4 separate regions of the Homo sapiens genome follow, and regions 1, 2 and 4 are each linked to region 3. The links come from fine-mapping of genetic effects on gene expression. A gene starts in region 3. Each other region holds a variant in brackets. All regions are shown on one strand. Distances are from middle to middle. Region 1 has its middle 12 kb from the start of ZNF222. Region 2 has its middle 7.3 kb from the start of ZNF227. Region 3 holds the start of ZNF155 (zinc finger protein 155). Region 4 has its middle 13 kb from the start of ZNF235.

Region 1 (6,080 bases), 54 kb before region 3:
CAAGTGCTTCTCTTGTCCTTGGTTATGACAGTTCCTAAGTAATTGTTTCTTTTTGATGCTATTGTCAAGATAAGTATTTTCCTTTCAGATTGTTTTTTTGTGCAGAAATACAAACTACTTCTTCTATACAGGTATTTTTCCAGCAACTTTTTGACTTTGTTAGCTCTAAGAGGTTTTTTTCTTGTGTATTCTGTAGAACTTATAAGAACATGTCATCAGCATGTAGACACAGTTTTATGTGTTTCCAATTTTAACAGGTTTATTTCCTTTTTCTACCTAATTGTTCTGCCTAGAACTTCCAATACTATGTTGACTAGAGGTGGAAAAGTGGAGCAAATTCATTGTGTTCCTGATATTAGAAAAAGAGCTTGCAGTCCTTCACTATTGAATAAGAAAATAAGCTCTTGAAATTTTCCACATCTAGCCTTTATTTTGTTGAGATAGTTTCTTTTCTTTTTAGTTGAGTGGTATTTTAATCATGAAAGTGTGAATTTTGTTAAATGAATTTTCTGCATTCACTGACATGATCATGTGGATTATATTTTTATATCTTTCAATCTGTTCATGCAGCATAATACATTAATATTTGTATGTTGAGTCATAAATTATATTTGCATTCCAGGAATAAATGTTTGGTCATTGAGTATAATCCTTTTAATATGCTGCTGAATTTTGCTGGTATTTTATGGTAGAGTCTTGCATCAGTATTCATATGGGATGTTGATGTATAATTTTCATGCAATGTCTTTGTCTGGTTTGGTACCATGGTAATCCTGGCCTCAGAGAAGGAACTAGGAAGTGTTCCCTCCTCTTGCCTATTTGGGAAGAGGTTGAGGAGTTATGGTGTTAAGTGTTCCTTAAATGTTTGGAATAATTCTTACTAAGTAAAATAAGGGTTACTAAAAATAAAAATAATTTTTTTTTTAAATGCAAGAATTAACCAGTGGAGCCACCTAATTTTGGGCTTTCTTTGTTGGGAGGCACTGGGTTACTGATTCAATCTCCTTACTAGTTAAGGATCTACTCAGATTTTCTGTCTTCATGATTCATTTTTGGTAGGGTATATGTTTTAAGAGATTTGTCTATTTTATCTAGGTTGTACAATTTGTTGGCATACAATTAAAGATAGTGCTCTGTTATAATCATTTTTATTTCTCTAAAATTTGCAGTAAAGTTCATATTTTTGTGTGTAAATTTTGCTTCTTGAGGCTTCTCTATTTTTTAGTCAATCTAACTATAGGTTTCTCAAGTTTCTTAATCTTCTGGAATAACCAACTCTTGGTTTGGTTAATTTTCTGTTTTTCTATTCTCCATTTGTCATTGCATTAATCGGTATTCTTTCTTTCCTTCTACTAGCTTTCTGGTTCAAATTCTTTGCCTTTTTGTAGTTCATGAATATAAAATTAGGTTGTGAATTTAAGATATTTCTTTCTTTAATATAAGCATTTACAGGTACAAATTTCCCACCTACTACTGCTTTTACCTCATCCAATAAATTTTGGCACGTTGTTTTTAATTTCAATGGTCTCCATATATTTTTTAAGTTCACTTCTAATTTACTCTGACATATAGGTTATTTAAGAATGTGTTTAGTCTCCACATACTTGTGAATTTTCACTTTTCTTGCTGCTATCATTTCTAGTTTTTGTGATCTAGATTGTAATTGGAAAAAATGTATTTTATTATATTAAAATTTAAAATTTATTAACACTTGATTCGTGGCCTAATATATAGCTATCCTGGAGAATATTCCATGTGCAAATGAGAAAATGTATATTCTGTTGTTGTTGTGTGGGTTATTCCGTATATGTGTTTTAGGTCAATTTTGTGTATAATATTCTTCAAATCCTCTATTTCCTTACTTATCTTTGTTTGTTTGTTTTTCTTACATATCTTTGGTCTGGCTATTTGCAAGTGAGGTATGAAGTGTCCTAGTACAGTTGACCCTTAGTATATGTGGGTATATCAAAATGCATACATACTCAAGTCTTGCGGTCAGCCCTGTAGAACCAATGTATATAAAAATTTGGCCCTTCATATATGTGGGTTTCACATCCCATGAATATTGTATTTTCAATCTGAGTTTGGTTGAAAAAAGTTCACACGTAAGTGTACCTATGCAGTTCAAATCCATGTGGCTCACAGTCAACTGTATTATTGGGTAGCTACTTCTCTCTTCAATTCTGTATTTGCTTCATATAATTAGGAGCTCTGATGTTTGGTGCACATATGTTTATAATTGTTATATCTTCTTGGTGAAATCATCCTTTTAGTAATATATAATGTTCTTCTTGGTCTCTTCTAACAATTTTTCACTTAAAGTCTAATTTAGCCCTTAGTAAAGCCACCGTTGCTCTCTTTTTATTACTATTTATATGGAATAACTTTTTCCATCCTTTCCGTTTCAATCTATGCACATCATTAGATTTAAGCATATCCCTTGTGCAGAGCATACACTTGGATACTGTTTTTTTCAATGGTTTTGCCAGTGAACATCTTTTGGTTGAGGAGTTTCACTCATTTACACTAAACTCATTATTTGTAGGAAAGGTCTTACCATTTTGTTATTTTTTAAATGTCTTACTGCCTTTTGCCCCTAATTTCCTCCATTACTGCCTTCCTTTAT[G/A]TTGAGTCCTTTTTCTGTAGTGATACATTTTGAAACTCTTCTCATTTCCCTTTGTGTGTCTCACTGATATGTTCTTTATTTGAAGAAACATAACATTCTACATGCTATGGTCTAAAGTTATAACCATCTATTTAAAATTGATACCAACTTAACTTCAGTCACATGCAAAAACGCTACTCCTTCACAACTTCTGCTTCCCTTCATGTTATGTGACTGGTATCATGTATTGCAACTATACATATTGTGTACCCATTCACATAGATTTACAATCATTTTAATGCATTTTCCTATTACATAGTGTACAAAATAAAAAGTGGAGTAAAAACTCAAATTACAAAAATAGTGAGTTTTACATCATTCATGTAATTTTATTTACTTTAGATATTTATGTTTTCATATGGTTTCAAGTTGCTGTCTAGCATCCTTTCACTTCAACTTGATGGCATCCCTTTATAACTTCTCATATAAATTGTCTTCCGGTAATGGACTCTCTTGGCTTTTGTTTCTTTAGAAAAGTATTAATTTATCTCTCATGTTTGAAGGATAGTTTTGCTGAATATTGATTTCTCAGTAGACAACTGTGTGTTTTTGGTTTTTTCAGCAGAGAATACATCATCTGTCTTCAGATGTTTGCTGAAAATCTGCTGACATCTTATTGAAGATTCTTTGTACATGACAAGTCATTTTGGACTTGCTGCTGTCAAAATTTTCATTTGTCTTTGTCCTCCAATAATTTTTAACAATATGTCTCAATTGGGTCTCTTTGATTTTATCTTATGTGAAATTCATTGAGCTTGGATTTACAGAATAATGTGTTCTTCATATTTGAGAAGTTTTCAGCCTTTATTTCTGTAAAGCTCTCTTTGACTTTTTCTGTCTCCTCCTAGGACACCTATAATGCATATATGGTGCCTTGGGTTTTGTGTATTTTTACTCATTTCTTTTTCTTTTTTTTTTTTTTTTTGCTTCTGAGACACAATAATTTCCTATGACTTATCTTCATGTTCACTCATTCTGATGGTACTGTAGCAGGAGTAGGAACAATGGGCCTTAGGGGCACTTACCTGTGGCTTCAGGACCCGCTCCAACCCAATCTCATATATACCACTTCCAAGTGGAATACCAATGTGCACATACAATTTAAAGATATGGAGTGGCCAACTACACCCAATTCATAATGGAAACCTTGGCTCACATGCTAATTTGGTAGCCCATGGTTAAGTGCTCTGTCTTTACTAAGTGGGAGGACTGCTTGATGCCAGGAGTTCAAGACCAGCCTGGGCAACAAAGTGAGACCCCATCTGTACAAAAAAAAAAAAAAGAGAGAGAGAGAGTAAACATACGTAGAGGATTTCAGGGCTTCGCTACAAAATTCTATGTGTTTGTGCTTTGATTCATCAGTTGTGGCCAGCCACTCTCTCCAAACATCACTATCTGTTTCTGATATTTCAGTCACTTGTGGGTCTCCTGGATCATAGGACCCTAGTGGAAGAGAAGCTTATATGACAGCTGGCACATATTGCACAACCTTGTCTCAACTGAGGCAAAATGATTTCAGGTCACTCATAAAAAGCAGAGTAGTACACCACAGTGAAGAATAAGTAGCCTCCAACAGCTGAGCAGGGCCACTGGGCATTGGGACACTTTTTTTGGTTTTAGGAAGCATCACATGCTACTTGCCCTACACCTTAGATTAGAAAGAATATCTTTATTTATTTTTTTGAGACAGTCTCACTCTGTCACCGAGACCGGAGTGCAGTGGTGCAATCTTGGCTCACTGCAATCTCCGCCTCTTGGGTTCAAGTGATTCTCCTTTCTCAGGTTCCCAAAGAGCTGGGATTACTGGCACCCACCACCATGCCCAGTTAATTTTTGTATTTTTAGTAAAGATGGGGTTTCATCATGTTGGCCAGGCTGGTCTTAAACTCCTTACCTCAAGTGATCTCCCGCCTTGGCCTCCCAAAGTGCTGGGATTACAGGCATGACCACCACGCTTGTCCTAGAAGGAATATCTCAATAGTTTTGCATCAGTGAACTCATGGAAATTTCACTGAGGTGGAAGTCCTATGAATATTTATAGGACTTATTCTGTCCTTCTGATATGCATGTGTCTTACAAACATGTCTAGATTACTTTCTACTTTTTTCTCACCAGGTCCAATCATCACATTAATGTGCCATTTGACAATAAGGATTCAGTCATTGTCAAAAAGAGTGATTATTTCTCCTTTTGAGTACATAGTCACACAGGTTCATGGCCATAGTTTCCTGTGGAGAACTCTGAAATGTGGTAGGATCTATTCTCATCCAGTATTGGCCTCCCTTTCATGTAAATGAATGTGGATTTGTAAACTGGACATGTCTTGGATTTGATTTTGGGGCTGTGACTCTGTTAGGTGATTCCAGTCACCCTTTTCTTCACTTGCAGTAGAACTCTTCTGAGTTCTATTGACAGAGTAGAGACAGGGCTTGGCTTCAGTTCACCCCGACTAGAGCGTTCTTTCATGCATTCCCAATGATCACAAAACCCACACCTCTACCTCACTGCTAAGAATTCCAGGAACTGGCCTTGGGTGATAACCAAAGTTGTAGAGTGTCTCCCTTCAGGATGAAATGCTAAACAATTGATTTACAGCCTTGTTGCCACCACCCAGACCACCAGGTGGCCCAGTACACAAGATAAGCATTGCAACCAGGTAATGCTGACCTGCATGCCCTACCAGTCATGTGCTTTTCCCAGCCCAGCCTTCAAACCCTATCCCTGATGTTAATTCCCACGCTTTGCCAAATAAACAATCCTATGAGCTCTTTGAAGGGAGTCAGGAAATTCTCTCTTGTGCCGCCTTCCTTATGTCCAGGCATAAGCTCCAGTGAAGGCTTGTCTGGGAAAACCCTTTCAGTCTCATTTCAATTTCTATTGCAGAGCCCAGGAACCTGTGGTTGGTGGCATATTCTTTGGGGATTTGTCTAGGATCATGGGACATGGGGGGCCTTTCTCTCCCTGAGGGGTAGACATGTGAGCTGACAGGACTGCTGGACAAGATTTCTTCATGATTGAAAATCACCTGACTGAACTTTTGATTCAGTGTTACCACAATGGTTGGCTTTCTCCAGCCTCATGGACCTTGCCTCTGCCTCTACTGTAGAGAGCCGAAAGCCGGAGGATCGTGACCAACTCAGCAGTCCAGTGAGGCTATATGATCAAACAACACACTGTTTATCATGAATGCAGGATGTGGGCAAACTCATATCTGTACCTGCCACCAGAAGGTATGCTGAGTTCAATCACTCCCTGGTGCCGTGCTCCTTGAGGTTATCTACTAGAATATCTGGAGACTACTGTTCAGGGAATGCAGTCATCCAGGCCTGCACTGAGTCAAGCAGCTGACTGACAACCACCTCCTTCTCTCTATCTCCTTTGCTCAATAAATACAAAGGGAGCTAGAAGCTCAGGG
Region 2 (6,080 bases), 220 kb before region 3:
CACTGGATTCTCAAGTAAATTTAGAATAAATTTATAAAAGAATTTGCAGTAAATGATGAGACCAAGTCCTCTTATTGAAAAATCATTAATCTTGAGAACTGATGTACATAGTGGTCAAAAGTAGAATTGTATAAAAAGTTTAAAACTGCTTGACTGTACACATAGGGCGGAATTTTTTAATAATATTTTTCTTTAGATTGCCTACAATACTATACAGTGGTTGTCCTTATTCAGTAATAAGACAGCTTTCTTTTCTACATTGTGTGGAGAGGTCTATTATCTTCGTCTCTCTGTTAGAACATAAGTGGTACCTACCACATAACGGTATTTTGGACATTTAATGAATAATTCGTATAAAAGTACAAGGACCTCCTACTAATGACTCTACTTCAGGAATGAGGAGAATGGGATAGAGAAAGATTAAGATTAACTCACAAAACGTTATAACACTAGTAAGTGGCAGAGCTGGCAAGTAGGTGGGAGAGGCTGGCTGCGGAACGCCAGGAGACCCTCTAACCAAGCGACAACCGATCCAGGACGCTCCCAACCCGGGGACGCAAGAACTGCTCCAAACGTGAGGCTCAGCCGAGAGGAAAGAACACAAACTGCTCCCAACTCCAGCCTCCCAGCTGGCCACAGCTTCTCTAGCCTTCCTCCAGACGAGGGCCAGGGCCCCGCTTGCTCCCTGACGAGGCTGAGAAAACTTGGAGGGTCCCAGCGGATCCAAACACTTGTTTTCGCCCTCCTAGAGCGAAAAAACTTCCCAGCAACTAAAGAGAAACCCCGGATCACTTCCCACAATTCCCTAGCTCCGCCATCCAAAAGCGGAAGTGCCCCAGGCTACGCGGGCCCCTGACTACACTTCCCAGAATGCCCCAGGGGAAACCGGCCATAGTTCCGCTCCTTGGAGCGGAAATACTTCCGAGTAACCTGAGCTTCCGGGTATCCTAGAAAGCCAGAGCAAATCTTAGCCAAGATTTGCAATTTTAGAGTGGAAGTGTCTGTCTTGGTGGTACCTACCGATTCTGTTGTTCAAGGGCCTTGGGGAAGAAGTTGGGGATCGGGAGAAGGGTACCTAGTAAAACCCAAAGAGCTGCACTACAGGAGTAAAGATAAAGGGCAAATAGATCATCTTCACTAGGGGACTGAAGCAAAACTTGAAATCACATTCGTACCTGAAAATAGATTAAAGTAAACCTTTTCTGTTAGTGTTTGCAGGTACCTGACATAAACAAAAATATTCTAATGGAGAAAGAGACTATCGTCCTAGGCCTCATATTCTTTCTCTAATTTTAAAATATATTAATATTGGACAAAGTACAATAGTCCTTGAAGAAAAGAACATTTTAAGATATACAAAGAAACACTTCATAGTAATGAAAATTTTCTATCAACTATAACAGCCTTACATAATGTAAAGCAAACTTTATAAAGAAAAATTGATTGACAGACTCATAAGGAGAAAAACACTGATAAACAGGAGAGCTTTTAATACATGATTAGAAGGAAACATAGAAAGCCTTGAAATCATATACAGGTCCTGGAGTTAACAATGGTTCACTTAAGATTTTTCGACTTCATGATGGTGTGAAAGCAACACACATTCAGTACAGTACCTATACAACCCTTCTGTTTTTCCCTTTCAATACCTATTCAATAAATTATATGATATTCAACACTTTATTATGAAATAAGCTTCTTTTTGCTAGATAACGTTGCCCTTGGATCACCTGAGGTCAGGAGTTTGAGACCACCCTGGAGAATATGGCAAAACCCTGTCTCTACTAAAACTATGAAAATTAGTCGGGCGTGGTGGTGCGCACCTGTAGTCCCAGCTACTCTGGAGGCTGAGGCAAGAGAATCACCTGAACCTGCGAGGCGGCGGTTGCAGTGAGCCAAGATCGAGCCATTGCACTCCAGCCTGGGCGAGAGAGCGAGACTCCCTCTCAAAACAAAACAAAACAAAAAACCTTGCCCAACTGGGGGCTAATATAAACGTCATGAGCACCTTTAAGGCAGGCTAGCCTAAGCTATGATGTTTGGTAGATTGGGTGTATTAAATGCATTTTCGACTTAGGATACTTTCAACTTACGGTAGGTAAGTTCATCAGAATGTGAGCCCACTGTAAGTTGAGGAGCATCTGTCCTAAAACAGGAGAAAAGCTGAACAAAAAAATAAAAACATTTATCTCAGGAATTCAATAAACAAATACCAAAACCACAGTGGGTAGATGGAAAGAAATGATCAAGATAATAGGAAATACATGAAATAGAAAACGAAATGGAGTGGATCTTAAAAAGTAAAATGATCATTCTATAAATAGAACAATAAAACTGACAAAGTCCAGTGACAGTAAACAAAAAAGACAGAAATGACATATTACCAGTTTCAGAAGTAAAAGGGAAC[A/C]TCACTAAATATATTGAGAATATTATGAGGAACATTATGATGATACATTTAAGAAATATAAATTCCCACTTAAAACTAAAATGAACATACACAACAATTAACAAAATGTTGAAAATTTATCTCTGAGAATGAGAATGGGAAGAAAATGCTGAATATCACCACTTCTAATCAAATTGTACTGAAGCTTATATCTAGCAACTTGGTCAAAATAATTTTATTATTTATTTATTCCTTTCTTTTCCCTATGGAACACTTTCATTTCCTCCCCCAGCCCCATATTTTGTTTGTTGTGTTTCTCTTTGTGTGTGTTTTGTGCAAAGTGCATGTGATGTGGTTGTGTGTGCACACTTTTAGTTTATATAAGTGGTATTATGTCATAAAAATAAATGTTAAGACTTTCAAAACTCAGCAGTATGTTTTAAAGATTCATCCATGTTTCTAGCATACATTAACCTATTTTATAGAACTAATTGTTTACACCCAAAATATTTTACTATTCCATGACAGAAACCTGGATTGCCATTGGCAATAACAATGCTAGGAACATCACTATACATCTTCATAGAAATGTGTGACAATTTATTTAGGACACATATCCATAAGTGTAGTTGTTGGTTCATAGCAGAGTCATATACTTACACATTTACAAATAATATTAATAGCTATATTGCTCTCCTGAATGGTTAAACCATTCCACATTCTCATGAGCACTGAATACAGTTTGTTGTATAACCACCCATTTCCATACCATCATTTGCCATGAACCATCATCCTATGTCTTGCCACTCCATTAAACACATACTGGTATTTCACTGTTTTAATCAAATTTCTCTGATTTTTAATAAGTTTGAGCATTTCTTCAAAATACTTTACAGCCTATTCTGTAAACTGTATATTTATGCCCTTTTCTTCTGTTATGGGTGCTATATTTTCCTTGTTCACTTGGATTATATACCACGAATATTAATACCTTATGCATTTGAGACACAGCAATACCTACTATTTGGTATTTTTTGATATTTCTTTTTTTGATGTATTGATTGTTTTTTATTAAATTTTTTTAATTTATTTATTTTTATTTTTATTTTTTTTTAGTATTTATTGATCATTCTTGGGTGTTTCTCCGAGAGGGGGATTTGGCAGGGTCATAGGACAATAGTGGAGGGAAGGTCAGCAGATAAACATGTGAACAAAGGTCTCTGGTTTTCCTAGGCAGAGGGCCCTGCCGCCTTCCGCAGTGTTTGTGTCCCTGGGTACTTGAGATTAGGGAGTGGTGATGACTCTTAACGAGCATGCTGCCTTCAAGCATCTGTTTCACAAAGCACATCTTGCACTGCCCTTAATCCATTTAACCCTTAGTGGACACAGCACATGTTTCAGAGAGCAGGGGGTTGGGGGCAAGGTTATAGATTAACAGCATCCCAAGGCAGAAGAATTTTTCTTAGTACAGAACAAAATGGAGTCTCCTATGTCTACTTCTTTCCACACAGACACAGTAACAACCCGATCTCTCTTTCTTTTCCCCACACTTCCCCCCTTTCTATTCAACAAAACCGCCATCGTCATCATGGCCCGTTCTCAATGAGCTGTTGGGTACACCTCCCAGACGGGGTGGCGGCCGGGCAGAGGGGCTCCTCACTTCCCAGACGGGGCGGCGGGGCAGAGGCGCCCCCCCCACCTCCCGGACAGGGTGGCTGGCCGGGCGGGGGCTGCCCCCCACCTCCCGGACGGGGTGGCTGCCGGGCGGAGATGCTCCTCACTTCCCAGACAGGGCGGCTGCCGGGCGGAGAGGCTCCTCACTTCCCAGATGGGGCGGCTGCCGGGCGGAGGGGCTCCTCACTTCTCAGACGGGATGGCGGGTCAGAGACGCTCCTCACCTCCCAGACAGGGTGGCAGCGGGGCAGAGACACTCCTCAGTTCCCAGACGGGGTCGCAGCCGGGCAGAGGCGCTCCTCACATCCCAGACGGGGCGGCGGGGCAGAGGCGCTCCCCACACCCCAGATGATGGGCGGCCCGGCAGAGACACTCCTCACTTCCTAGACGGGATGACGGCAGGGAAGAGGCGCTCCTCACTTCCTAGACTGGGCAGCCGGGCAGAGAGGCTCCTCACATCCCAGACAATGGGCGGCCAGGCAGAGACGCTCCTCACTTCCTAGATGGGGTGGCGGCCAGGCAGAGGCTGCAATCTCGGCACTTTGGGAGGCCAAGGCAGGTGGCTGGGAGGTGGAGGTTGTAGCGAGCCAAGATCACGCCACTGCACTCCAGCCTGGGCAACATTGAGCACTGAGTGAGCGAGACTCCGTCTGCAATCCCAGCACCTCGGGAGGCCGAGGCTGGCAGATCACTCGTGGTCAGGAGCTGGAGACCAGGGGGGCCAACAGGGGGAAACCCCGTCTCCACCAAAAAATACAAAAACCAGTCAGGCGTGGCGGCGCACGCCTGCAATCCCAGGCACTCGGCAGGCTGAGGCAGGAGAATCAGGCAGGGAAGTTGCAGTGAGCAGAGATGGCGGCAGTACAGTCCAGCCTCGTATCAGCTCGGCATGGGAGGGAGACCGTGCAAAGGGGAGAGGGAGAGGGGGAGAGGGGGAGGGGAGAGGGAGGGGGGAGAGGGGGAGGGAAGAGAGGGAGAGAGGGAGAGGGAGAGGGAGAGGGAGAGCTATTTTTTGATATTTCTTATAGAAACTTTATTGAGATATAATGGATACAGTTTACCCATTTAAAGAGCACAGTTAAATGAATTTTATTATATCCAGAGAGTTGTGCAACTATCACTGCAATCAATTTTTAGGACATTTACATAATCTCAAAAAGATACCTGATACCCATTAACAGTCACTTCCAATTTTTCCCAAACTCCTCAGCCCTAGGCAATCACTAATCTACTTTCTGTAGATGTACATATTTTGAACATTTTCTGTCAGTGTACTCACACAATACGTGGTCTTTTGAAACGAACTTTACTTAGCATAACATGTTGAAGGGTCATCCATGTTGGTGCATGAACCAGTTATTCATTTCTTTTCATGGCTACATAATGTGCCATTGGATGAATACATCACATCTTATTTATTCATTAATGGCTATTTTGGATTGTTTCTACTTTTGGCTATTATTAATAATGTTGTTTTGAACATTTATGTACAAGCTTATGTGTAGGCATAAGTTTTAATTTCTCTTGGTTGTATATCTAGGAGTGGAATGCTGAGTCATATAATAACTCTATGTTTAAACCCTTGGGAAACTGCCAGACTGTTTGCCAAATAAATTGCACCATTTTACATTCCCACCAACAATGTATGAGGGTTCCAATTTCTCCACTCCCTTGGCAACCCTTTTATTATCTGTCTTTTTTACTGTAGCCAATCTGGTGGCTAAGCAATATCTCATTGTTGTTTTGATTTCCGTTTCCCTAATGACTTATGACATTGACCATCTTTTCATGTGCCTATTGGGCATTTATATGTCTTCTTTTGAAAAATGTCTATTCAGATACTTTGGCCCATTGTTTAATTGGGTTATTTGTCTTTCTAAAGTGTTGAATTGTAAGAGTTATTTATGTATTCTAGCTACAAGTCTCATCAGATATATGATTTACAAATACGTTCACCCATGTTGGTGTCTTCACTTTCTCGATGGTATCCACTGATACACAAAAGTTTTTCATTTTGATG
Region 3 (6,080 bases):
CACACCTGTAATCTCAGCACTTTGGGAGGCCGAGGTGGGCGGATCACAAGGTCAGGAGATCGAGACCATCCTGGCTAACACAGTGAAACCTCGTCTCTACTAAATATACAAAAAAATAGCCGGGCATGGTGGCCGGCACCTGTAGTCCCAGCTACTCAGGAGGCTGGGGCAGGAGAATGGTGTGAACCCGGGAGGCGGAGCTCACAGTGAGCCGAGATCGCACCACTGCACTCCAGCCTAGGTGACAGAGCGAGACTCCGTCTAAAAAAAAAAAAAAAAAAACACAAATGGGAATAATATTGGATGAGCATGACATAATATGGCAGTTTACTAGTTTATTCTCTATTAGCAGTATTTAAAAATTTCCATAGTTAAAGAAATATGGGAAAACACATTAAGATATTATAACAATTTTTTTAAATGCTTATAAATAAATATACAATAGACACAGAGAAAGACTAAAAAGAAACGGAGGAGAACTGGAAGTTCCATCTCTTGTATCAGACAGTTAGCACCTTCACATCTTGGATTCATGGGTAATTTAAAACATGTTTTCTCCTCCTATTAATCTAATTTTAAAATGCTCCACAATGATATGGTTCCACAATACAAAATCCTTATAAAAAGTGAAACAGGATGTTGACAAATTTTTAAAAGACTCCTACAGAAGTCCAAGTCTATGAGCCTTGCTCTCAAGGTCCCTTCAATCAAGTCCTAACTCTCTTTCCCCACCTGATTCCAGCTAGTTCCTCTACCTCAATGAAAATGTATCCAAGGGATGATCAACTCAGGCTCTGACCCAAACTGCCTAGGTTCCAGCTCCAGCTGTACCTCATTCTACTGGGAACTAAGCACCAGGTGTCTCACTCCCATATTTAAAATGGAAAAGAGCGACCGGGCGCGGTGGCTCACGCCTGTAATCCCAGCATTTTCGGAGGCCAAGGCGGTCGGATCACGAGGTCAGGAGTTTCAGACCAGCCTGACCAAAACGGTGAAACCCCATCTTTACTAAAAATACAAAAATTAGCTGGGCGTGGTGGTGCGCACCTGTAATCCCAGCTACTTAGGAGGCTGAAGCAGGAGAATCGCCTGAACCTGGGAGGCGGCCTATTGCACTGAGCCCAGATCGCGCCACTGCACTCTAGCCTGGGCGACAGAGCGAGACTCCGTCTCAGGAAAAAAAAAAAAAAAAAAAAAAGAAAAAGAGCAATACCTTTCCACAGAGCCATGGTGTGGCGTAAATGTATTTATTTCCATAAAGCCCTTAGAATTAAGTTACCAATTAAGGTTTAATTATTATCAACACCCATGCCCAAGGACACATCCTATACACTCTTGGTTGAGGTGAACATCTCTGTAAAAGAAAAAACCGGCCCGGCGCGGTGGCTCACACCTGTAATTCCAGCACTTTGGGAGGCCGAGGCAGGCGGATCACTTAGGACCACAGGTTCGAGACCAGCCTGGCCAACATGGTGAAACCCCGTCTCTACTAAAAATACAAAAATTAGCCGGGCATGGTGACGCATGCCTGTAATCCCAGCTACTCCGGAGCTGAGGACAGAGAATCGCTTGAACCCAGGAGGCGGAGGTTGCAGTGAGCCAAGATCGCGCCACTGCTGCACTCCAGCCTGGGAGACAGAGCAAACCTCATTCTCAAATAATAACAATAATAAAAACAGACTAACAAAATAAATAACTTTTTTTTAAAAAGAGAAAAGCCAAAGACCACTCGTGTAGACAGCTTTGTCCTCAGTAGCCAAGTCCCTCCCTGCAGCTCTTTTAGAAAAGTCAGGCTGGGGAAGGAGAAAGCTGTCAAACACTCTGCGTCGCCGTCCCGGATACAAGTTAAATGCTCCTCTCCCTTCGTGAAACGTGGATGCAACCCACGCCTTCCTAAAAAGAGGTCAGAGGCGTCCGGGATCATCCAGAGCCCTGCCGGGCTCCAAGAGAAGGGCCGGAGCAGCTGGAGCTCTGACCCCACCCGGGCACCTGACCACTTCGCGGGAAATTAACAGGACACCAAGTGACAGGAGCTGTTAAGTCTTTGTTTTATACCACAACTTTCAACTCCTAAAACAATTCTATCAGGATGGTCCTGAAATCCTCATTTAAAAAACGGCAATGGGAGGTACAGGGAGATTAAGTAACACCCCACGTTATATCGCGAGAAAGAGGTCGCACACTTAAGAGTGGAGGGAGGCGGACTGAACGAGGTCAAACACCTGGAAAACCCTCTAAACAGGCACACAAGACTAGACAGAGTTCTTCCCCGCCCCCCCCGAACCCCCGACGACTCCTCCGGTGGACCTGAGTACAGCCCCCAACGCCAGAAGGCTCCATCGACGGCAACGAAACTTCCCTCCCACCCCTCGCATCTCCAAACCTCAGGTCTTCTCCAGGGCTTCTTACCCCCTTAGTTGACCCCCCAGGTCGTTAGGCGCCCCTAATAACTGGTTCACTTTCGCAAAGACCCGCAAGACACATACTTGGCTCAAACCACCTTGTTAAGTAGCAGTGTCCTGCTCGGAGACCGGAAGTGTCGATGATGCCACAGGCGTCTGGACTACACTTCCCAGAATCCCCCGAATCCGCCTGCCTGAGCCAAAGTTCCCACGACTCCACAGAGCAAATGGACTCCACTTCCCAGAATTCACAGGTCCTCCTGCCTGGGCCAAAATTCCCACGCCTCCCAAGCTACTCGCGAAACGCCTGCGGGAGCCAAATTTCCTGCGCATCGACCGGGCAATTAGACTCCCGCAGGCGTTTCGCTGGTATCTTGGGAAATGGAGTCCATTTGCTCTGTGGAGGCGTGAGAATTTTGGCTCAGGCAGGTGGACCTGTGAATTCTGGCCTATCAACCTATATTTTTATTTTAAAAAAATGGAGTCTCATGTTCTATATCAATTTTTCTAAACTAAAAAAGAATACTTTTCATGGTTTTCTTTAGATAAAGTGACTGTGCCAACCACAGTATGAGGAACACTTCTCTGAAAATTGAGTGACTGCTATTTCTAAACCAGTTACAGCTGTATCCTTGCTCTGTTCTGCCCTCCCAAGAGATAAAAATTTATTGACACGCTCAATCGTAGTAGGCAGGAAACTGTGCCTAATATATTAGGGTATATCTGGCATCAAAGGCCCTTTCTGTCCCCCAGGTCCTTGCACTCTGGGCCTGTGATGGGAGGAGAAGCTGCCATAATCTGTGAAATGCCTTTGGGGTCATTCTTCCATTGTCTTGGACAATAGGTCCTGGCTTCAGTTGACATGGCCAATCCATACTAAATTCATGAATTAGTTAGTTGCTTAACCATACCCTTGTATTCTTCAGGTTTCCTGTTTTTTTTTTTTTCCAAAGTAGATAGGCTGTAAACTTTTAAAAATTTTAGTTCTGTTTCCCTTTTAATTAATAATTATTTCAGTCATTCCTCACTTCGTGCCTTTCACTACGGGTAGTCAAGATGATTCAAGCAACTTCAACACTTTGATTAGAAATTAATTCAGATAAACAATTATATCATTCACAAATTCTACCTTCCATAAAACACTAGCACCTGAATATAATTCAGCCAAATTCTTTGTCCCTTTATAACAAGAAGCTCTCTTCTCTTCCAATAACATGTTCAACATTTCTGACTGAGGTCTTCAGAATGGCCTTTACTGTCCATATTTCTACCAACATTCTGATCATGACTACCTAGGTATGCTCTAACAAGATTGATGTTTTCTCTACAGTTCTTATTCTCTATTTCTGAGCGCTAACCAGAATTGTCCTTATCAGTCCATTCATGGCAATGTAGGCTTTTCCTAGCATACATGTAAAAACTCTTCTAGACTCTATCCATTACATAGTTCCAAAGACTGCTACATTTTTAGGTATTTGTTGCAGCAGCAAGCCCACCTCTCAGTACCAATATTTTTTAGTCACAAAATATCATAGCCTGCCTGGCTTTTATTTTATTTTATTTTATTTTATTTTATTTTATTTTATTTTATTTTATTTTATTTTTGAGACGGAGTCTTGCTCTGTCGCCCAGGCTAGAGTGCAGTGGCGCGATCTCGGCTCACTGCAAGCTCTGCCTCCCAGGTTCATGCCATTCTTCTGTCTCAGCCTCCCGAGTAGCTGGGACTACAGGTGCTCGCCACCATGCCCGGCTAATTTTTTTGTATTTTTGGTAGAGAAGAGGTTTCACCGTGTTAGCCAGGATGGTCTCGATCTGACCTTGTGATCCGCCCACCTCGGCCTCCCAAAGTGCTGGGATTACAGGCGTGAGCGACCACGCCCGGCCGGCTTTTAAGCAACAGAAATCTATTCTTCACAGATCTGGAAACTGGGATCCAAGATCAAAGCACTGGCAGATTTTGTGTCAGGTAGTTGGCCACTTTCTTGTTCATAGTTAGCACCATATTGCTGTGTCTTCATTTGGTTGAAGTGACAAACAAGCTCCTTCTGGCATTTTTTATAAGGGTATTCATCCCGTGACCTAATCACCCTCCAAAGGCCCCACCTCCTATTACCATCACATTGAGGGTAAAAATTACAATATATGGATTTTGGTGGGCCACAAACATTAAGACCATTGCATACGCATCATGCAGTGTCAGAGTTACTAATTCATATCATTGTAAAAAACAATGCAAAAGTAGAGTTCAACATTTTTTATAGTTCTTTTTGTCTTTAGACTGAGGATATATAGTCAAACACTGTACTGTTTAATAAGTTGCTTAAATTACTTCTTGCTGTCACCTTTAGACTGTTTATGTTATTGATTTGAAATACATTTAGGTTAATTTGTTATTCTATGATTTTCACTTTCCTAGTTTATCTACAAAGAAATCTCATTCTTGATTTTATATTATTGGGTATGTCAGTCATCAACATGTTCCCATGAGTCAATGCTCTACCACATATTATTCTCAGAGAAGTGCCACTCCCCTCCTTCCTACCCCTAAACCAATTCCACAGTGTTGCCACCTAACACCTTTATGTAACTAATTTTATTATTTTCATTACCACTTTTTTTTAACAGAATAGATGTGTTTCTTATTTTTCCTTTTTACTTAAATGTTAGGATAGTACACTTCTAATTCTTCTATATTCACATAATAACATCTTGGAAATCATGTCATATGGAGTAATTTATTTTTAAAACTGCATAAATTCCATTGAGTGGTTTATATAACAGTGCTGCAATTTATGGACATTTCAGTGACTTCCAATATTTTATTATTACAAATGATGCTGTTATAAATACACTTGTACATTTGTATATTATCCCTGTTGAAGATACATCAGAAGAGTACATCCCAGAAAGCAGGATTGAAAAGTGAAGATATTAATAGAAATTTTGTTGCATATTGTCAAGTTGCCTTAATTTTTTGGTACCATTTCCATTTGCAGAAGTAATGTATAAATATACTCTTGCCTTGAAACTAGCTAACAAAATGTGTTATTACAACATTTTTAAAGTTTTGCCAATCAAATGGTAAGAAGTGTATTTAAATTTAGTTTTAATTTATATTTCTTGTTTTTTAAATAACATAGAACATTTTTGCATATTTCCTGTGTCAATATTATTTTTCTTTTTGTAAATTGTTCAAATCTATTACCCATTTTTATGTTGAGTTTTTGGTCTGTTCGCCTCAATTTTTTTTTTTAGAACAAGGTCTTGCTATGTTGCCAAGGCTTGTCTTGAAGTCCTGGGCTCAAGCGATTCTCCCACCTCAGCCTTGTAAAGTGCTGATTTACTAACTAGGGCCAGCCAAAGGCTCAACCATCACTATCTTTCATTAACATTTTAATCACTTTTGGCTTTTCTGGGTCATAGGGTCCTGATGGCAGAGAAACTTACATAGCAGCTGGGACACATTGCACAGACTTATCTTGGATGAGTCAAAATGTTTTCAGGTCACACAAAATAGGCAAAGTAGCACGCCTCAATGAGGAATAAGTAGCATACAATAGCCCCAGTGGTCCACTAGGCGTTGTGACGCTATTTTTTGATCGTAGGAAGGGCTATATTCTACTTGCCCTACACCCAGAAGGGATAGCTCAATAGGCCTACATCAGTGAACTTGTGGAA
Region 4 (6,080 bases), 330 kb before region 3:
AAGCAACAAATGGCAGTAGTAAGTCCTTACTAATCAATAATAACACTGAATGTAAATTGACTCATCCTCTGATTAAAAGACATAAAGTGGCTGAATGGATAGAGAAACAAGACCCAACTATATGCTGCCTGCAAGAAACCCACTTCACCTGTAAAGACACACATAGTCTAAAAGTGAAGGGGTGGAAAAAGACATAGCTTGCAACAGGCAACGAAAAAAGAGCAGGAGTAGCTATACTTGTATAAGATACAATATAGACTACAAATCAAAGACTGTAAAAAAGACAAATAAGGTCACTATAAAATGATTAATGGGTCAATTCAGCAAGATGATATAACCATTATAAATATCTATGCATTCAACACCAGAACTCCGAAGTTTATAAAGCAAACATTAATAGATCGAAAATAAGAGATATATGGCAAAATAATAATAGTAGGAGACTTTGACATCCCACTCTCAGCAATGGACAGATCATCCAGACAGAAAATCAACAAAGAAACATTGAAGTTAGGTCACACACTAGACCTAATAGACATAACTGACATTTACAGATCATTTCACCCAATTGCTGCAGAATAGATGTTCTTTTCATCAGTACATGGAACATTGTCCAGAATAGACTATATCTTAGGCCACAAAACAAATCTCAACAAATTAAAAAAAAAAGAGAGATTATATTCAGTATCTTTTCTGACCACAGTATAATTAAACTAGAAATCAATAACAAAAAGGACATTGGAAGCTTCACAAACAACATGGAAATTAAACAGCATGCTCCTGAATGACCAGTGAGGCAATGAAGAAATTAAGAAGGAAATTTAAACATTTTTTGAAACAAAGAAAATAGAAATACAACATGGCAAAATCTATGGGATACAGCCAAAGCAAAACTTAGAGGTTTATAGCAACAAACATATATCAAAAAGGTAAAAAGATTTCAAATAACAACCTAATGATGCACCTCAAGGAACTAAAAAAGTAAGAACAAACCAAATCCAAAATTAGTAGAAGAAAATAAATAAAGATCAGAGCAGAAATAAATAAAATTGATAATGAAAGAAGAATACAGAAGATAAATGAAAGAAAAGTTGGGATTTTAAAAAGATAAACAGAAATCATCAAACCTTTGGCTAAACTAACCAAGAAAGAAAGAAGATCCAAGTAAATAACATCAGAAATGAAAAAGGAGACTTAACAACTGAGACCACAAAAATAAGAATCATTAGAAATAAGAATCATTAGAGACTGTGATGAACAATGATACACTTTGGAAAACCTAGAAGTAATGAATAAATTCCTGGACACATGCAATCGACCACAGTTGAACTATGAAGAAATAGAAAACCTCGATAAACCAGTAACAAATAATGAAATTGAAGCCATAATAAAAAGTCGCCTATCAAGGAAAAACTCATGACCTAATGGTTTCACTGCTAAATTCTACCAAACATTTAGAGAACTAATACCAATTCTACTCAAACTCTTCACAAAAATTGAAGAGAAGGGAATAATTCCAAATTTATTCTATGGGGCCAACAGTATCCTGATACCAAAACCAGAAAAGGACACAATGGAAAAAAAAACTGCAGGACATTATCACTGGTGAACATAGATGCAAAAATTTTCAACAAAATACTAGCAAACTGAATTCAGCAACATATTAAAAAGATCATTCACCAACATATTAAAAAGATCATTCACCATGATCAAATGGGATTCATCCCAAGGATGCAAGGATGATCCAGTATATGCAAATTGATAAGTGTGATACGTCACACTAACAGAACCAAGAAGAAAAACCATCTGATTATTTTGATAGATGCTAAAAATAAACATTCAATATAATTTAACATCCCTTTATGATAAAAATCCTCATCAAACTGGGTGTAGAAGGAACATACCTCAGAATAATAAAAGTTATATATGACAAGCCCACAGCTAACATTGTGCTGACAGGGAAGAATTGAAGGCCTTTCCTCTAAGATCTTGAAAAAGACAAGGATGCCTAATCTCACCACCTTTATTCAATATAGATAGTACTGGAAATCCTGCATAGAACAATTAGGTGGGAGGAACACTGAGAAAACTTTAGCACTCCAGTTCCCAGAGAAATTAAAGGGCATCCAAATTGGAAAGGAAGAAGTCAAATTAGTCTTGTTGACAGATGACATGTTATTAAAAATGGAAAATACTAAAGACTATCAAAAACCATTAGAACTGATAAGAAAATTGAGTAATGTTGCAGGATACAAAATAAACATAAAAAATCAGTATTATTTATATATGCCAACAGTGAACAATCTGAAATCAAGAAAGCAATCCCATTTACAATAGCTACAAAGAATATACAATACCTAAGAGTGAGTTTAACCAAAGTAGTGAAAGAACTATCCAAGGAAAACTCTAAAACACTGATGAAAGAAATTGAAAAGGACACAAAAAATAGATAGCCCATGCTCATGGATTGGAATAATTAATATTGTCAAAATGACAATATTACTCAATGCAATTTACAGATTCAATGAAATTCCTATGAAAATACTAATGACAGGCCAGGCACAGTGGCTCATGCCTGTAATCCCAGCACTTTGGGAGGCCAAGGCAGACCAATCACGAGGTCAGGAGATTGAGACCATCCTGGCTAACATGGTGAAACCCTGTCTCTACTAAAAAATGCAAAAAATTAGCCGGGCATGGTGGCGGGCACCTGTAGTCCCAGCTACTTGGGAGGCTGAGGCAGGAGAATAGCGTGAACCTGGGAGGCAGAGCTTGCAGTGAGCCAAGATTGCGCCACTGCACTGTAGCCTGGGCGACAGAGCAAGACTCCTTCTCAAGAAAAATAATAGTGATAAATTTAATTTAATTTAATTTAATTTAATTTAA[A/TTTAATTTAATTTAAA]AAAAGAAAATACTAATGACATTCTTCACTGAAATAGACAAAAACAATTCTAACATTTATATGGAACCACAGAAGATGCCATATAGCCAAAGGCAACTCTGAGCAAAAGTAAGAAAGCTGGAGGCAGCACACTATCTGACTTCAAAATATACTACAAAACAACAGCAACTGAAACAGCATAGTACTGGCATAAAAACAGACACATAGACCAATGGAAAAGAATAGAGAGCTCAAGTATAAATCCATGCATTTATAGTTAACTCATCTTTGACAAAGGCACCAAGAACATACAATGGAAGAAAGGTCAGTCTCTTCAATTAATAGTGCAGGGAAAACTGAATATATGCAAAAGAATGAAGCTAGACCCTTATCTCACCTTCACAAAAATCAGATCAAAATTGATTAAAGACTTAAATATAAGACCTAAAACTATAAAACTACTATTAATAGAAGAAAACATTGGGGAAATGATTCACAACATTGATATGGGCAAAGATTTCAGTAGCACCTCAAAAGCACAGGCAGCCAAAGTGAAAATTAACAAATTGGATTACATCAAGCTAAGAATCTTCTGCAGAGCAAGGGAAACAATTTAAAAAGTGAAGAGACAACCCACAGAATGGGAGAAAATATTTGCAAACTGACCATCTGACCAGGGATTAAGACCCAGAATATATAAGGAGCTCAAACAACTCAATAGCAAAAAAGCCAAATAATCAGATTTTTAATGGGCAACAGATCTGAATAGATGTTTTCAAAAGAAGACATACAAGTGACCAACAGGTATAAGGAAAAAAATGATCAATATCAGAGAAATCCAAATCAAAACCACAGTGAGATCTCATCTCACTCCAGTTAAAATTACTTTTATCAAAAATACAGGCAATAATGGATGATGGTGAGGGTGTGGCAAAAGGGGAATGCTTGTACACTGTTGGTGGGGATGTAAGTTGGTACAATCACTATGGAGAATAGTATGGAGGTTTCTTTAAAAACTAAAAATAGAACTACCATACAGTCCAGCAATTCCAGTACTGGGTATATATTCAAAGAAAGAAAATATATCAAAAAGACACCTGCAATCTCATGTTTATTGCAGCACTATGGACAATAGGCAAAATATGAAATCAACCTAACTGCCCATTAATGGATGAATTGTATATATGCACAATGGAATATTCTTCAGCCATAAAAAAGAATGAAATACCATCTTTCGCAGCAACATGGATGGAACCGGGAGTAATTATATTAAATGAAATAGGCCAAACACAGAAGGACAAATAACATATTCTCAATTATATATGGAAGCTAAAAAAAGTGGATCTCATGAAGATAGAGAGTAGATTGCTGGTTGCCAGAGGCTGGCAAGGGTAGTAGGGAGGAGGGATGAAGAGAAGTTGATTAATGGGTACAAAAATATGGTTTGATAGAAGAAATAAGACCTAGCAGTAGATTAGTAGGGTGACTATAGTTTACAGTAATCTATTGTATATTTCAAAATGGCTAGAAGAGAAGCATTAGAATGGTGCTAGCATAAAGAAAGGACACATATTTCAGGTGATGGATATTCCAAGTACACTGATTTGATTTTTACAAATTACATAAATGTATTAAATTATCATAAAAATAAGAAACAAAACAATAAACTGAGAAAAAAATTTAAATGACCTACAACCTAATTTTTAATGCCTGCATGGTATTCTTGTGTATTAATGTGTTATTTTTACTTAACCAATTTCTTACTATTGAAGGCCTGTTTACTGTTTTTCACTCTTCTAAACCACAATGCAATAAAAACCAGAGAAAAATAAGTTTCATCTCTTTATATTCATCATCTCCATAGAACATTTAAATGTGTGGTTGTTGAGTGAATAGACGTGTTTTAAATTTTATCTATATTGGCTCATTGTCCTGCCGAAAATGAAAATCCTCATATTCTCCAAGTCAAAAATAATGGATCACAACATCATGTGAGTAAAGTTTGTGATATGCCTGTCCTCTGTCTGCCAGAAGAAAACTTAGATCCTCTGAAGGAAGATTACATTATCTAGAGTCAACACCATTTTTTATACAAAATACCTGGCATTCAACAAAAATTAATGGGGCTTGCCAGAAAATTGGCCAAATGCCAAAACAAAAACAAAAGACAATATAAACATTCAAACTTGGGGAATGAGTAGATTCCTTAAGACTGCAGGCAAAAGAAACTGTACATAAGCATGATATTCTAATAGTTGAAACGGACTTCCAGATGATCCAGATATTGGAGTTAGCGGGCACAAACTTTAAAACAACTGATTAAAGAAAATAAATGAAAACTAAAAGTAATCACTTGGTTCTGTTTTTGAAAAGTTTATGCTTAGTGTGGCATTTAAAAGATCCATTTTTAAAAAATGGTTATATAAAAATTTAAAATCCTAGAAAGCTCAACACAATGACTGACATTAAGAATTTAACAGATGGGAGCCAGGCACGGTGGCTCACACCTGTAATCCCAGCACTTTGGGAGGCCAAGGCAGGCAGATCACGAGGTCAGGAGTTTGAGACCAGCCTGGCCAATATGGTGAAACCCCATCTCTACTAAAAATATTAAAAAATCAGCTGAGTGTGGTGGCTTGTGCCTGTAGTCCCAGCTACTAGGGAGGCTGAGGCAGGAGAATCGCTTGAACCTGGGAGGCGGAGGTTGCAGTGAACTGAGATCACGCCACTGCACTCCAGCCTGGTGACAGAGTGAGACTCCATCTCAAAAAAAAAATTAACAGATGGGATTAATAGCAGTTTAGATATGGCTAATATTTTGTCCTTATTTCTCACAGTTCTTAGTCTAGCTAAAGGCTTATGAACATTGCCATTTCAAAAAAAATCTTTCCATTTTATCCTCTGTATTGTTTTTATAGTTTCAATTTCATTTATTTCTGCTCTGATCTTTATTATTTCTTTCTTTTTACTAATTTTGGATTTGGTTTGTTTTGCTTTTTTAGTTCCCCTCACAGTCCTATAGCATTTTTAGCTCAGTAGAGTGGGAACTCCTTAAGAGTAAATATGGTGCTTTATACATTACAGGTGTACAGTAAATGTTTGCAAAGACAATGATGCCCTATAGAGGCCCAGAGTTAAGGTTTCAACAGAATTAAAAGTTACTTGTCTTACCATAAGTACTGCCAAAAACTAATAATGATTATTGAGAGTAAAAG

The links. PIP is the estimated chance that this variant, and not a neighbour inherited with it, causes the effect.
Region 1: its variant is fine-mapped to the expression of ZNF155 in whole blood (INTERVAL, PIP above 0.99).
Region 2: its variant is fine-mapped to the expression of ZNF155 in whole blood (INTERVAL, PIP 0.92).
Region 4: its variant is fine-mapped to the expression of ZNF155 in vagina (GTEx, PIP 0.98).

What each region holds. Positions count from the first base shown.
Region 1 is chr19:44,034,327-44,040,406 of GRCh38, reverse strand. No RefSeq gene overlaps it. Among named protein-coding and RNA genes, the nearest start is that of ZNF222, 12 kb to the right of the region's middle. The variant G/A (reference allele first, on the strand shown) is at 2,627.
Region 2 is chr19:44,202,239-44,208,318 of GRCh38, reverse strand. It overlaps a transcript of ZNF227 not described here. Among named protein-coding and RNA genes, the nearest start is that of ZNF227, 7.3 kb to the left of the region's middle. RefSeq lists enhancers at 491-540, 551-650. The variant A/C (reference allele first, on the strand shown) is at 2,408.
Region 3 is chr19:43,980,652-43,986,731 of GRCh38, reverse strand. ZNF155 (zinc finger protein 155) reads right to left here and starts at 2,544. Exons shown (of 5, transcript NM_198089.3): 1 at 2,487-2,544. It also overlaps a transcript of ZNF221 not described here. RefSeq lists a silencer at 2,648-2,847.
Region 4 is chr19:44,315,014-44,321,093 of GRCh38, reverse strand. No RefSeq gene overlaps it. Among named protein-coding and RNA genes, the nearest start is that of ZNF235, 13 kb to the right of the region's middle. The variant A/TTTAATTTAATTTAAA (reference allele first, on the strand shown) is at 2,887.